2 separate regions of the Homo sapiens genome follow, and region 2 is linked to region 1. The links come from fine-mapping of genetic effects on gene expression. Tissue or cell type: whole blood. Region 1 holds a variant in brackets; the other region holds the start of a gene. All regions are shown on one strand. Distances are from middle to middle.

What was found. PIP is the estimated chance that this variant, and not a neighbour inherited with it, causes the effect.
Region 2: CARD8 starts here. The variant in region 1 is fine-mapped to the expression of CARD8 in whole blood (INTERVAL, PIP 0.93).

What each region holds. Positions count from the first base shown.
Region 1 is chr19:48,211,197-48,213,696 of GRCh38, reverse strand. It overlaps CARD8 (caspase recruitment domain family member 8), which reads left to right. Exons shown (of 14, transcript NM_001184900.3): 14 at 1,722-2,500. The coding sequence ends at 1,987. Among named protein-coding and RNA genes, the nearest start is that of ZSWIM9, 42 kb to the right of the region's middle. The variant A/G (reference allele first, on the strand shown) is at 1,537.
Region 2 is chr19:48,254,300-48,256,960 of GRCh38, reverse strand. It overlaps CARD8 (caspase recruitment domain family member 8), which reads left to right and starts at 1,049. Exons shown (of 14, transcript NM_001184900.3): 1 at 1,049-1,169. It overlaps CARD8-AS1 (CARD8 antisense RNA 1), which reads right to left and starts at 1,286. Exons shown (of 2, transcript NR_040599.1): 1 at 1,167-1,286; 2 at 1-610. RefSeq lists an enhancer at 941-1,180.

The sequences.
Region 1 (2,500 bases):
TACATTATTTAATATAAAGAGTTGGCTGGGTGCAGTGGCTCACACTTGTAATCCCAACACTTTGGGAGGCCGAGGCAGGTGGATCACCTGAGGTCAGGAGTTTGAGACCAGCCTGGCCAACATGGTGAAACCCTGCCTCTACTAAAAATACAAAAACTAGCTGGGCGTGGTGGCACATGCCTGTGATCCCAGCTACTCGGGGGGCTGAGGCAGGAGAATCGCTTGAACCCAGGGGCGGAGATTGCAGTAAGCCGAGATCGTGCCATCGCACTCCAGCCTGGGGACAAGAGTGAGACTTTGTCTCAAAATAAATAAATAAATAAGTAAATAAATAAAATAGAGTTAACACTGAGAGGACCAAGTTTCCATCATCTAGTAAGCAATAAATCCAGGTTTGGAACTCCTTGTCTCCTGATGACTTCATGTCCACGTTAATTTTAAAAATCACCCAAGGCAGCAATCTGCAATGTCCTCTGGATCTGTGTAAAGTCTTGTGTGGCAAATGACAGAAAGTCCAACTTAAATGGAGTGAAATTATCAAGAGTGTCATGGCTCAGGCGAGTTCAAGGAAGAGATGTGGGACTGACTCCAGGGAGGCTGATTCATGGGCTCAAACAACATCACAAGGGAGGAATGTTTCTCCATGTCTTCGTCCCGCCTTCCATATTGTTGGCTTCATTGTCAGGCTCCACACAGTGTAAGTTTCCGAACTCATGTCTCAAAACAGACCACTGGGAGAAAAAAGAGAGCACCTTCTGAGATGGCAATCATGCCATTTCCTAGCTGTTGTTGCCTGGAAGGCCATTGAGGCAGATTAAATAAAAAGAAATCATGCCTCACATCTGGAGGTGCAATGAGGATCAGCTAAGGAGCTTGGTTAAGAATCAGATAAAGGTGACGTCCTAAAATAAATCAAAGAACATCTCTGTAGGTGGTGACTGCAGGCTGAGCAGCACCAACAAAAGGCTTCTACCCTTCCTAAATATAATGTTTAGGATGTGGAGCAAAATATAGCACCTGTTGCCTGCACGTTGAAATCAAAGCTTAGTAGCTCAGTCTACAGGAAGCTGGTCCAGAACATGTCTTGAGTCAAAATCACACCTCAACCTCCATGCATTCTAAACCACGTGATATGGAAGTAATATGATTTGGCCAAGTTTATACAGACATTATATGGGGCACAACGTAAACCCTGAGTCTACATGATGGAAAAAAGTCTGTATCTTTTCCCCTGTTCTTCCTTTTCTATGCATTGTATGTCTCCAGTTAAATCTCTTCTTTCATAGCTCTGCCAGCTAAGCTTTGGGGATCCAGCTGAATCCTTCTCCATACCTCTAGCATCATGCACAGTTTCTGACAATGTATGAACTAGAAGATTTGTGTTTCGTTGTTAGAGGGATTTATATATAAATGTATGTACAGCAAGATAGAGCTCTGTCTAGGATTTCAATGAAAAACACCAACTAGGAAGAAACAGGCTTCAAGAAATGGATGAGAGGAGTAGGACTGAGGAAGATACATTATTTGAGACACCTC[A/G]ATGCATTTGATACTGCAAAGGGTATATTTGCTCTGTGAATGTGTGTGATTTTGTATGTCCACAAATTAAGCTACAGACACAAGGAGCAATCTCCCACCCCTGAATTTTGACTCTAAGCTTGGTATAGATCCTGAATCCTGTAAGTGAACGATTCTCAAAGTCTGAAACTCCCCCTTTCATCCAGGTGCAGCCTTTGTGAAGGAGAACCACCGGCAACTCCAAGCCAGGATGGGGGACCTGAAAGGGGTGCTCGATGATCTCCAAGACAATGAGGTTCTTACTGAGAATGAGAAGGAGCTGGTGGAGCAGGAAAAGACACGGCAGAGCAAGAATGAGGCCTTGCTGAGCATGGTGGAGAAGAAAGGGGACCTGGCCCTGGACGTGCTCTTCAGAAGCATTAGTGAAAGGGACCCTTACCTCGTGTCCTATCTTAGACAGCAGAATTTGTAAAATGAGTCAGTTAGGTAGTCTGGAAGAGAGAATCCAGCGTTCTCATTGGAAATGGATAAACAGAAATGTGATCATTGATTTCAGTGTTCAAGACAGAAGAAGACTGGGTAACATCTATCACACAGGCTTTCAGGACAGACTTGTAACCTGGCATGTACCTATTGACTGTATCCTCATGCATTTTCCTCAAGAATGTCTGAAGAAGGTAGTAATATTCCTTTTAAATTTTTTCCAACCATTGCTTGATATATCACTATTTTATCCATTGACATGATTCTTGAAGACCCAGGATAAAGGACATCCGGATAGGTGTGTTTATGAAGGATGGGGCCTGGAAAGGCAACTTTTCCTGATTAATGTGAAAAATAATTCCTATGGACACTCCGTTTGAAGTATCACCTTCTCATAACTAAAAGCAGAAAAGCTAACAAAAGCTTCTCAGCTGAGGACACTCAAGGCATACATGATGACAGTCTTTTTTTTTTTTGTATGTTAGGACTTTAACACTTTATC
Region 2 (2,661 bases), 43 kb before region 1:
ATTGCACTCAGTTGTTATGTCCTTAGATTCCTCCAGGCTGTGACCGTTTCTTATTCTTCCCTTGTCTTTTGTGATTGTGACACTTTTGCTGAGCATGGCCAATTATTTTACAGAATGTTTATCAATTTGGATTTCTTTGATGTTTTCTCACGATTAGGCTGAGGTCATGCATGTTTGTCTTCTGTGTTCAGTCAATATGCCCCATCCTTTTTCAAATATTTCTTCATGTTCTGGCGTCAGAATTTGTTCCAATGTTATCTTATATATTCCTGCCCCAGCCCTCGAAGTAACCATTTCTCCACAGATACTTCAAAATAGTATTTAGAAACCAAGGCCGGGCACAGTGGCTCACGCCTGTAATCCCAGCACTTTGGGAGGCCGAGGCGGGCTGATCTCGAGGTCAAGAGACGGAGACCATCCTGACCAACATGGTGAAACTCCGTCTTTACTAAAAATACAAAAAATTAGCCGAGCGTGGTGGCATGCACCTATAATTCCAGCTACTCGGGAGGCTGAGGCAAGAGAATCGCTTGAACCTGGGAGGCAGAGGTTGCAGTGAGCCGAGATTGCTCCATTACACTCCAGCCTGGGTGACAGACGGAGACTTCATCTCAAAAAAAAAAAAAAGTAATATTGATTAAAAATCAAATTGCATGAGAATGCATAGCAGGATACCAAGCAAATACAACTTTTAAATATTACAGAAAATGATATTTAAAATACAAACCAAATACATAAATCATGCAGGCGGATTAAGACGTTTCTGGATAGTGGTAACAGCTGAGAGTGGCTGGATGAATTCCAGAGAAATTTCATATATTGCTTCAATTTTATTTAAAATATACTATTACCTATGTCTTAGATATTTTATTTTAAATAATGAACAAGGATATTATAAACTCTGCAGAAGTAAGTGTAATCGTGTTTTTTTCCTGCCCACATTAAAGATGGCCCAGATGCTTGCACTGACCCCATTGACTGCCCACAGCCATCATGGCGACCGGAAGTCCTGAGAGCTTACTTCCCTCAGTTCTCAGAAAGCCCACCTCCTCTGCGAGCGTTATTTCAAAAGAAGTTGAGAACCAGAGAAACCGACCTAAGGGGATTCTCCCATTTGGCCCGTCCTACCCTAAAGTCACCACCTGCTGCTTTTCTGGAGCGCTTACCAGGTGAGTTTCAGGAGCCCTAGTGTACAGGAAGGAGAAACGGAGGCTTGTTGGTAGGACACCGCCAGGCTGCTCTGTGTTCTGTTCCTCTTAGTCAGCAAGGAAGGAGTACGACAAAGTGAGAAGTTCATATGAGCGTGTCAGAAGGGGAAATAGGGCCCCTCCCTTGTTAAAAACAAAACCCTCTGGAAGCTCGGCATCCTGTCATAACTTAAATTTATGACTTCAGTGACTTGGCTTGGACAGTCTTAATAATCTCTCTCACACTCAATTTGTTTTAATTTCTGTAATAATAATTTTTATACCAATGTTTATGTTGTTAATACTAATAATTTTACACTGTAACTGTATAACTTTAATTATTAGAAGTGTTAACCTAACTAACAAACATATGAAAGCTTCCTAAGGGAAACAATTTTTTTTTCTTTTTGAGATGGAGTCTCGCTCTGTGGCTAGGCTGGAGTACAGTGGCATGATCTTGGCTCACTGCAACCTCTGCCTCCCAGGTTCAAGCGATTCTCGTGCCTCAGTCTCCCAAGTAGCTGGGACTACAGGCGTGCACCACCACATCCAGCTAATTTTTTATTTTTTAGTAGAGACGGGGTTTCACCATGTTGGCCAGGATGGTCTCCGTCTCTTGACCTCGAGATCAGCCCGCCTTGGCCTCCCAAAGTGTTGGGATTACAGGCGTGAGCCACTGCGCCCAGCCGGAAACAATGTTTATTTGGGAATAGAGCATTGCAATTGGGAATAGACATGCCGTATTAAACTATGTGTATATTCAGGGAGATAAAGGAAGACAGAAATGGGGAGGATTGCATATTGTTTTAACAGAATTTTCCTTGGCTACAAAGATCAGTAACAAGGGTGACATTAGTCCTAGGTTGGACCAGCAGTTGCTGGGCAGCATTCCTTGCAGAAATATATATTTTTTTAAGGTTGTGAAGACCTTTATGTAAGGTTGTGGGTTTTGTAGAGTCTTTTTCATCTTCAGGCATGCAAGGATAAGAGCCCTCTCTTCATGGCCTTCCTGGCTCTATTTGTCAGGGTTATCTTAACATAAGTGACTCCATTTTGTTCTGACAACTTTCAGATTTCCCCTTGTGATCAAGAAGTTTCTCTGAAAGCACTCTCCTGCCTCAGCCTCCCGAGTAGCTGCGACTACAGGTGCCCACCACCACACCCAGCTAATTGTTTTTGTGTTTTTAGTAGAGACGGGGTTTCACTATGTTGGCCAGGCTGGTCTCGAACCCCTGACTTGTGATCTGCCCACTTCGGCCTCCCAAAGTGCTGGGATTACAGGGATGAGCCACCGCACCAGGCCTGCATTTCTTTTTTCAAAGAATTACTGTGGCATTTTTTCCAATGTCATTGTGTTCTGTGGTTCTTATCTAGTCTTCACATTTATTTACATAATGAACTTTCAATGATGGATTTCTACAGAATTTTTGTCACTAAGTGGTTGCCTAGAAGTATATATCCTAAGATTGAACAT